Regions from separate parts of the Homo sapiens genome. Here region 2 is linked to region 1. Evidence: fine-mapped expression QTL. Tissue or cell type: esophagus mucosa. Region 1 holds a variant in brackets; the other region holds the start of a gene. All regions are shown on one strand. Distances are between the middles of the regions.

What was found. PIP is the estimated chance that this variant, and not a neighbour inherited with it, causes the effect.
Region 2: CLDN34 starts here. The variant in region 1 is the best candidate, but not a certain one, in a credible set for the expression of CLDN34 in esophagus mucosa (GTEx, PIP 0.53).

Annotation. Positions count from the first base shown.
Region 1 is chrX:9,935,280-9,940,659 of GRCh38, forward strand. It overlaps SHROOM2 (shroom family member 2), which reads left to right. Exons shown (of 10, transcript NM_001649.4): 7 at 1,855-2,406; 8 at 3,916-4,087. Among named protein-coding and RNA genes, the nearest start is that of CLDN34, 29 kb to the right of the region's middle. RefSeq lists enhancers at 4,084-5,283, 5,368-5,380. The variant G/A (reference allele first, on the strand shown) is at 2,723.
Region 2 is chrX:9,964,666-9,970,045 of GRCh38, forward strand. CLDN34 (claudin 34) reads left to right here and starts at 2,693. Exons shown (of 1, transcript NM_001195081.2): 1 at 2,693-3,687. The coding sequence starts at 2,693. The coding sequence ends at 3,337.

The DNA of each region.
Region 1 (5,380 bases):
TGGATAAGGTGGCCAGGTTTTCCTCCTTCTTTTATTATTATTATTATTATTATTATTTATTATTATTATGTTTTTAACAGAGAGGTGGGGAGGTCTCACTGTGTTACCTAGGCTGGTCTCAAACTCCTGGGCGCAAGCAGTCCTCCCACCTTAGCCTCCCACAGTGCTGGGATTCCAGGTGTGAGCCACTGTGCCTAGCCAGGGTTTTCCTTCATAAGTCTGACCTATCTAAATGGTATTTTCCACAGTTAGACTTTGTAAATTGTCTTCATGAGGAAGCAGTTGTGAGGTGTCTGTGAGTCCCTAGATAAAACACATCAGATGTTGCTGAACCCTACTGGAGAGAGGGAGGAAAATACGCAGTTAGTTCATCTCAGCCTGAGCACCACTGCCTTGATAGGGAAAGAGCCCTCCTGCATTCCCAGTCACCAGTGAAAGAGGGAAAAACAGCATTAAATTTAGAGCATCGTGGCTGCCCTCCTGCTGTGGAAAATTGGATACATTTGTGTAACATCGTAGGGGCAGTTTTGGGTTGACTTCATTAGAAACACATCCTAATTTGGGGTTGTGGAGTTTGGCCTGTTTCTTTTTGCTTCCCTCCTGACCACCAGCATATGGGGCTGCTTCTCCAGTGCTCTGAAAAGCTCTTGGCTGAGATGGCCCTGGTCAGCATGGTCTAGCACGGTGCCGCTGAGAGCAGCAGGTGCAGGGCTGCCCCAGACAAGGGACTGTGGCATTGCTGGGCCTGTTCCTCCTGTTCTCTCTCCCCCAGTCTCCCAGGGATGCTTTAGGTACCTCTCTAGTCCCTTTCATCCAGAAACTTTTCTTTTTTTTTTGAGATGGAGTCTTGCTCTGTTGCCCAGGCTAGAGTGCAGTGGTGTGATCTCAGGTCACTGATCTCAGCTCACTGCAACTTCTGCTTCCCAGGTTCAAGCGATTCTCATGCTTCAGCTTCCCGAGTAGGTGGGATTACAGGTGCGCACCACCACACCCGGCTAATTTTTGTATTTTTAGTAGAGACAGGGTTTCTCCATGTTAGCCAGGTGGGTCTCGAACTCCTGACCACAAGTGATCCACCCGCCTCGGCCTTCCAAAGTGCTGGGATTACAGGCATGACCCACCACATCTGGCTGACACTTTTTTAAAAAAAAAGCAAAACTGTGCCCTTTGGAAGTAATACAGAACCGATGACTCGCTGCTTACTGCGAGATCGTATCTCACTGGTGTGCAAATCTGTGCAACGCTAGCTTGAAGCACAGCGGGCGGGGGGTACAAGGACAGTGTTGGGTGGGCTGTCCTGCATATGGCACAGGAGGTTCTCCCAAGTGGGGTGGTGGGGGGCTTTGGCCTGACTCCAAGCACGGCCACTCCGGAGAGGAGCCCTCCCCAGGCCCTGAGAACTACGCAGGAACCCGCGGGCCTGCACCAACCTAAGGACGGATGGGAATCCTGGAAAATGCCCATCCACTGCAGGCTTCCCCTACAAAAGAACATTTAACCCAACAGGGCTTGTTGAAGTTTGCATTATCATCTGCGGAATGACAAATGGTATTAAATAGTCCTCACAGCCCTCCACGAACCCCTGGAGGACACCTTGGGATGCCTCAGGGGTGGCATTGGCGGTTTGAGCATAGAAAGGATGCTGTGGTTGGAAGGCGGAGGTAGGAGTCAGAGGGAGCTTCTTGAGGCCTCTGCCTCATCCAGGATGTGGGATCATGGAGGCTCCTTCGAGTTGGGTGGCTGGCTAGTGCCTTTGAGTCAGGTTCCCATCCAGAGGGGAGGGCAGGGGACACGTCAATCAGGGTCTGTGGCTGGAGCATGCTTTGCGATTTCAGCAGACTGTTCATCTTCCAGAATTGAGCGGGTGATGGACAACAACACCACGGTGAAGATGGTGCCCATCAAGATCGTGCACTCGGAGAGCCAGCCAGAGAAGGAGAGCCGCCAGAGCCTGGCATGCCCCGCCGAGCCACCTGCCCTGCCCCACGGGCTGGAGAAAGACCAGATCAAGACGCTGAGCACATCTGAGCAGTTCTACTCGCGCTTCTGTCTGTACACGCGGCAGGGTGCTGAGCCCGAGGCCCCACATAGGGCCCAGCCGGCTGAGCCCCAGCCCCTGGGCACCCAGGTGCCCCCCGAGAAAGACCGCTGCACCTCCCCTCCAGGGCTCAGCTACATGAAGGCCAAAGAGAAGACTGTGGAAGACCTGAAGTCGGAGGAGCTGGCCAGGGAGATCGTGGGGAAGGATAAGTCCCTGGCCGACATCCTGGATCCCAGTGTGAAGATCAAAACCACTATGGACTTGATGGAAGGCATCTTCCCCAAAGACGAGCACCTCCTGGAAGAAGCCCAGCAACGGAGGAAGCTGCTCCCCAAAATCCCCTCTCCTAGAAGCACAGAGGAGAGGTGAGTAGGCGTGGCCTCCCAGCTTGGGCGTGACTCTGCCTGGCATCTCTTAGGCTTGTAAAGGGAAGGGGGTCTGCCTCTCTGTTTTCATGCGTGCTTTTGGGGAAGACGGGTTTTCATAAGGGCTCCTCGATGCTTAGCACTTTTTGGCTTTTTTGTGAGCCTCCGGAAAGAGAAATGGAGGGTTAACGGCTTTGGGCCTGACATGAAAATACACACTGCAGACCACCAAGCTGCCTTGGCCTGAGGCCAGCAGGATTTCTGATGATGCCCACAGGTCTCCTTTCTCGTAAGACAGCTGTTCTCAGTGGGGGCC[G/A]CTGTCTACCCTGGGGGACAGTTGGCAATGTCACTGTGGGGAGGGGTGTTCCAAGCATCTGGTGGGTGGAGCCCAGGAACACTGCTCAACATCTACAGTGCACAGGAGGGCCCCCCCCACAGAGAGTCATCCAGCCCCCACGTGTCCCTAGTGCCAACATGAGAATGAAGGCTTAGATTGAATATATATGTGTTTCTTTATGAAATGTTTTTTTAAAACTTTATTTGAAATTTTTTTACATCTGCATTTAAAAAATTTATTATAATTTGGCCAGGCACAGTGGTGCACACCTGTAATCCCAGCACTTTGGCTGACCGAGGTAGGCAGATCATTTAAGCCCATGAATTCAATACCAGCCTGGACAACATGGCAAAACCCAGTCTCTACAAAAAGTACAAAAAATTAGCCAGGCGTGGTGGTAGACACCTGTAGTCCCAGCTACTCGAGAGGCTGAGGTGGGAGGATCACTTGAGCCCAGGAGTTGGAGGCTGCAGTGAGCTATGATGGTGCCACTGCACTCCAGTGTGGGTGACAGAGTAAGACCCCATCTCTTGAAATAGAAATGAAAAAAAATTACGACAATTTACACCTGCCTGAACAAATGTATTTTAATTGGTTTTGTAAGTAGCACTTTCAGCGTATCTCCTTCAGCCACTTGACCACAAAGGCATGCGTGGTGGCATCTTCCCTGCTGCTGACATATGTTCTGCCAGCACAGCGTCATTCATGGGTAGGAAGGTGGAGTGGGTATGACACACAGCCAAGGAGGAGCAGCTGGACCAAGTGGACCCAGGCAGGAGGGCGCCGACAGGGCTGCTGGGAGGAAGGGAGAAGGGTTGGTGTTTGTAGATAGCGTCACACATGTCCTTGTCCTCATCAACCCAGGCTCCTGGTAGAGATCATCTGTGCTCTCACCTCTGTAGCAGAGATTCTTAGATATTCCTGCTTATTTGAGTTTTTGCCTTTTTTAAAAACTATGTTTCATACACTTACGAGTATCCATTTGACAGGGTTGATGGTTTTTAGTTTTAACCTTGTTACCTACTTACTTTTCCCCCTTTGGCTGTCTCATCTCCCTGGCTGGTGTCCTTTCGTGAGCACCAGTGTTGATTTGTCACAACCCAGGGGGTGGGGCAGAGGGGCTGTTTGCGTGCACAGTCCCAGCTCATTGAAGTTCCCACACCTTTACCCAGGAAAGAGGAGCCCAGCGTGCCTGCGGCCGTGTCCCTGGCCACCAATTCTACCTACTACAGCACGTCGGCCCCCAAGGCGGAGCTGCTGATCAAGATGAAGGACCTGCAGGAGCAGCAGGAGCACGAAGAGGATTCGGGAAGCGACTTGGACCACGACCTGTCGGTGAAGAAGGTAGGAGAGTCCATTCCAAATGACAGCGTGTGCGTGTCCAGGCAGGGGCAGGCATCCGGATCACACCATCCTGCCCCAGCGCAGACCCTGCACCACGTGTCCCAGGGCGTTTGTGTTCAGCTTTCACTCAGGACAGTGGAATTTGAGGTGATATTAGTGAAGCCCTCTGTTGTTAGTTCTATGTCCTAATCTTGAGCCATTCCACAAACGTCTCTTTGCTGTTTCAATAGGATCCAATGTCAAATTAGTTTAGTCACCATTCTCTTTCATTTTATCTTATTTATTTATTTTTGAGACAGGGTCTTGCTCTGTCGTGCAGGCTTGAGTGCAATGGTGCAATCATGGCCCACCGCAGCCTTGACCTCCTGGCCTCAAGCGATCCCCCTGCCTCAGATAAAGGAAAATTATTTTCAAATTAGAAAGTGGTAACTTTTTTTTGAGATAGAGTCTCCCTCTGTCACCCAGGCTGGAGTGCAGTGGCACACTCTCAGCTCACTGCAACCTCTGCCTCCCGGGTTCAAGCAATTCTCCTACCTCAGCCCCTCGAGTAGCTGGGATTACAGGCACCTGCCACCAAGCCTTGCTAATTTTTGTATTTTTAGTAGAGATGGGGTTTCACCATGTTGGCCAGGCCGGTCTCGAACCTCAAGTGATCCACCCACCGCAGCCTCCCAAAGTGCTGGGATTACAGGCGTGAGCCACTGCTTCCGGGCTGGAAGATGGTAACTTTTTGGTTCAAGGTATTAAAAAGGGAAATGAAAATTAAGGGTTTAGGTCTTGGGGCTTTTACGGGCCCTCCATCTGGCACACGGTACCATTCGCTTCATTCTGGTTGCACATTCCTCTTTTAAAAAATAATAAAGAATCCAAAACATGTTCGGTTTTTCCACACAGAACCAGGAAAATCATACCATCTGGACCATTTGAATTTGGGTCACACCCTAGGTTTAGAGAACTGCATTCTTTGCTCGCATGCCTTTGTTTTTCATGATATAATGAATTTCAGAAGCGGCATGCCTTGATTCTGCCGCCCTCATCTGTGGGGCACTCTGTCCACCTGCTTTGGGAGGCTGGAGATGCTGGGAAGCCGCCTCACCAGAAGTGTGGCTCCGGAACTGAGTGAGTCACTGTGGGCTGGAAGTTGGCCTCACTTTAGTTCAGCAAGTGTGAGTTGGGCACCTGCACCAGAAGCACATGCTGTACATCCCAGCTCTCTATGGTGCTGATGACTCAGCGGTCCTGTTTTCCTGCTTGATTGGACAAAGCGGCCACTGCTGCATTACATTTTCTCCC
Region 2 (5,380 bases), 29 kb after region 1:
ACACACACAAGGAGACACAGACAAATACACAACACACACAAGGAGACACAGACAAATACACAACACACACAAGGAGACACAAACACACACAAGGAGACACAGACAAATACACAACACACACAAACACAAACACACAAGGAGACACACAAACGCATATATATATAAAACAACATGTATATTTATACATTCTTTTGCATCCTTTTCCCACTTAGCAAACAGTGACAATTTCCTGTCACTAAAATGCTTTTGAAGACTTCATTGTAAATGGTTGAATAGTATGCTATATCACCTGGAATTATGAAATGTACTTAAGCATCCGTATTGCTTCACATATTACTTGTCTCCAGATTTCTCTTATTCCTAGTGTCAACAACACCCCTGGTGAGCATCAGTGCCCAGACACTTTGATCCCACTTCTCTGATTTGTCCACTAGAATTGGTTCCAAGAAATAGGAGATTGGGTCAGGAGACAGCCATGTTTTTATTACTCTTGATAATAATTTTTTTTTTAGGCGGAGTCTGGCTCTGTTGCCCAGGCTGGAGTGCAGTGGCTCTATCTCTGCTTACTGCAGCCTACAACTCCCGAGTTCAAGCGATTCTCCTGCCTCAGCCTCCCGAGTAGCTGGGACTACAGGCGTGCACCACCATGCCCGGCTAATTTTTGTATTTTTAGCAGAGATGGGGTTTCACCATGTTGGCAAAGCCGGGCTCAAACTCCTGACCTCAAGAGATCTGCCCTATTCGGCCTCCCAAAATGCTGGGATTACAGGTGTGAGCCACCATGCCTGGCCTTACTCTTGGTAATAATTAATTAATACACTTTTATGTTTGTGTCTCTGTATGCTCACCATTTTTTCCAATTAAAAAAGTAATAGACCTTAAGACACGAAAAGAGAAATCACCAGTAATCCTAATATTCAGATGCATCTTGTTTTGTCTTCCCAGCCTATTTTATGATAGGCAAAAATAAGATGATACTACTATAGATACTAACGAGTTTGTTATCTGCATTTTAGATCCAACCCACCATGGACATTTTCTCACGTTACTAAATCTTTTTCTACTTTACTATCTGCAAAGTATTATAATAAATGATTGGCTTCATTTTAACATATACTAGGTAGTAAAGTGTATTTATGTACTCAAACTAATGAATCTTCCATTGCTTGACAACATTTTATTGGAGACATGGTCTTGCTATGCTGCCCAGGCTGGTCTCAAACTCCTCGGCTCAAGCAAGTTTCCCGAGACAACTGTTTTGTGAAATATTTTTTATTGTTTTCTTGTTTTAAATAATCATGCTTATTGCAGAAATATTTGAAAATACTGAACAGCCAGGCACCTTTAAAAAATTACAATCTGAGTGTCATAAATGGACACAACATTGCGTGAAAGAAACCAGTCACACAAAAGCATTGACCGTATGATCCCCATTTTGAAAAACAGGCAAAATAGAAGTAAGATGTGTGGGGATGCATGCTGAGATGACAAAACTATGAAAGCAAGCAAGGAAGTGGGAATATTGTGTATCTGAAATGAAATGCTGGCTCCATGGGTGTTCACCCCACCATCGTTCATTGAGCTGCACACTTGTGTGCTTTTCTATATGTGTGTGACCCTTCACAATCCAAATAGCTTAGAAAAAACTCAGAATCTCTCAAACCCAGTTAAAAATGTCTCCTAATAGCTTAGGATGTAGATTTTCAGTTCGATTTGTATCTATGATTATATCGTACATATTATTTTGAAACATGTAATTTGTATTTGAAATATTACGGACACCTCCCTTTTGGTCACACAGAATGTCAACTAGAATGGCTGTCATGAAAAACATTAAAAATACCAAATGTTGGAGAAAATATGAAGAAACTGGAACCTCCATCATTGCTGGTGGGAATATAAAATGGTGCAGCCACGTGGGAAAACAGTTGAGCAATTTACAAAAAGTTAAATGCGCACTTAACATATGAACCACCAATTTCACTCCTAGGCATCTACACCAGATAAACAAGGACATATGCCCATACAAACTTTTATATTCAAGTGTTCATGACAGCATAGTTTATAATGGCCAAAACATGGCACCAAACCAAATGTCCAAAAGCTGATGAATGAACAAACTGTGGTCTACCCACACAATGGAACACCATTCAGCAATGAAAAGGGACAACCTTCTCATACCTGCTGCAACATGGATGACCCTTGGAAACGTGCCATGTGAAAAGAGCCACACAAAACTCTTATACCTTGTATGATTCCATTTGTATTGTCAATGTTGGCGTATAGCTCCATCGCGTGGACATAGCATAAATTCCTTCACCAAGCCCTGTTGTTGGACTTGACGTTGTTCCCCGGTTTCCAATATTACAAGCAATGCTGTGAGGACCATCTTTGTGGCTACATATTTGTGGCCGACCTTATTCATGTCTTTGCACCAATGCCCAGAAGTGGAACTGCCAGTCTGAAGGTGTGTGCATTTTAAAGCTTTCGGGAAATATCGCGGAGCGGCCCTGCACAAAGTTTGCTCAGACTGCACTCCCACCAGCAGATCTAGAGGGTCTAGTGTCTCCTTTCTCCAATACAACACCTCCCTCTTGGCGCTACTCACCCATGGGAGGCTGTCCCAGGTCCCAGGGTCCCCCCGCTCACCATGCTCTGTATTTGTTTGTAGTTTCCTGGGTGCGCTGCCACCATGGTCTGGTTCTGCAACAGTGCCGACTGCCAATTTTCAGTCTTCGCCCTTACCACCATAGGATGGATCCTCTCCTCTACGTCCACGGGCCTCGTGGAGTGGCGAATATGGTACATGAAAGACACCTCGCTCTACCCCCCTGGAATCGCCTGCGTGGGAATATTTAGAGTCTGCATTTACCGGCGTCGCACCAACAGCACCACAACCAAATTTTGTTACCGATACAGCTACCAGGACACCTTTCTCCCTTTTGAAATTTCCATGGCTCAACGCTTCCTACTGACTGCCAGCATTTTCGGATTCTTCGGGAGAGCCTTTAACATGTTTGCACTTAGAAACATGTCCATGAGAATGTTTGAGGAGGACACCTACAATTCATTCGTTGTTTCAGGAATTCTCAACATTGCTGCTGGTGTCTTTAACTTAATTGCTGTGCTCCAGAACTACGATGCCGTCATAAACTCACAGGGGATCACCTTCCTGCCATCTCTCCAAATGCCCTTCAAGCCAGATGTGCAGGAAGTTGGCACTGCCATTCAAGTGGCAGGGATAGGTGTCTTGCCGATGCTGTTAACTGGGATGTTTTCTCTGTTTTACAAATGTCCCCCGTACGGCCAAGTGCATCCTGGTATTTCAGAAATGTGAATTTCCTGGTTGCATTGGCTTTGCAAATCTAAGATTTCTGGGAGTTTATGGAAAATGTTATTAGCATGCTCTACCAAATATTTCCAACGACTCAAGACCGTGGCATGGGTAGTTTGGGACAGAAGGTGGCCAACTGCCTCCTTCTGTTATCTTGTGTATCTGAATGTGGCTCACTGATTTGTTGGTTGAATTGAGAACTTTTATTTAAAAGTCTTCCCACCTGCCAGTTGGTCTTATTGCATCTGAATTTTAATTATTGTTGGCTACAGCAAATAATCAACCCTGTAAACTAAGAGTAGGGAAATAAGAGTTTCTGAGTACATTAACTTCTCACATTTCCCTCTTAAACTTTTGCTACAAACAATCATAGGCCAGGCATGGTGACTTACGCCTGTAATCCCAGCACTTTGGGAGGCCGAAGTGGGAGGATCACTTGAGGCCAGGAGTTCAAGACCAGCCTGGGCAGCATAGCAAGACCTGGTCTCTACAAGAAAAAAAAAAAATAGCTGGGTGTGGTGGTGCGTGGCTGTGATTCTAGTTACTTGGGAGGCTGAAGTGCGAGGATCACTTGAGCCCAGGAGTTGGAAGCTCCAGTGAGACGTGATGGCACCACTGCACTCCAGCCTGGGCCATATAACAAGACCCTGACTCTTTAAAAAAACTCCAATAAACAAAAAACCAAGAATGGACCTTATTTTCTATGTCATGGTAATAACATCTCCCTACCATATAAAGTTTTCTAAAATGTGCAAAAGTAGAGAGGATAGCATAAGGAATCTCCACACACCCATTGCCAGACTCCACAGTTACTGAGATTAGGGCACTTCTGCTTTCTCTTTCCATTCTTTTACCTTTCTAATCTATGTTTCTTTTTCCCAAGTTTTTTTTTTTTTTTGAGACAGAGTCTTGCTCTGTCGCCTGGACTTGAGTGCGGTGGCGTGATTTTAGCTCACTGCAACCTCTGCCTCCCAGGTTCAAGCGATTCTCCTGCCTCAGCCTCCCGAACAGCTGGGATTACAGGCACCTGCCACCATGCCTGGCTAATTTTTGTATTTTTAAAAATATTGGGGTTTTACCATGTTGGCCAGGCTGGTCTCAAACTCCTGGCCTCAAGTGATCCGCCTGCGTCGGCCTCCCAAAGTGCTGAGATTACAGGTGTGAGCCACTGCACCCGGCCTCTTTTTCCTAAGTATTTTAAAGCAAACCCCAGACACCATGTCCCAGACACCATGTCCCTTCATCCCCATATACTCTTAAAAAGTGGACACTTCTCACATAACCATATATGTAAAAAACTGAGCAGTTATTCCTCATTATGAAATAGTCAGAATGTTTAGATGCCTTAAAAATAATTCTGTAGTTTTATTTGTCCCACACAAAGTGCTCACTCTGCCTCTGAAGTGTCCATCTAAAACACTCCCCCAGTGCACGCGCGCACACACACACACACAGAGCAACCCCTCTGCCTTTTTTTTTTTTTTTTTCCCTGAGGCAGGGTCTCACTCTGTCACCCAGGTTGGAGTGCAGTGGCATGATCAAGGATTGGTGCAGCCTTGACCTCCAGGCTCTGGTGAGCCTCCCACCTCAACCTCCAAAGTAGATGGGACTACAAGCGTGCACCACCATGCCTGCCTAATTTTTTGTATTTTTATAAAGATGAGGTCTTGCCATGTTGCCCAGGCAGGTCTTGAACTCCTGGGCTCAAGCGATCCTCTTGCCTCAGCCTCCCAAGCACTGAGATTACATGTGAGAACCACCGTGCCTGACCTCATGTGCCTTTTTAATAAATGATTTTGATTTGCTGAAGAAAGTGGATTAATTTAACTCGTTACCTCTAGAGGCTTGATTAGAGTCCTGGTCAGTTCTCAGGAAGAGTATTTCATAGGTGGTACCACGTACTTCCTGCTGACTGCACTATGCCAGGGGTACATGGTCATTATCCCTTTCAGTGATGCTAACATTGATCAGTGGATCCATGAAGGGAACGCCTGATCCCTTTTGTAAGTTGCTTCATAAAACTTCCACCCAACCCTAATGGTTTCA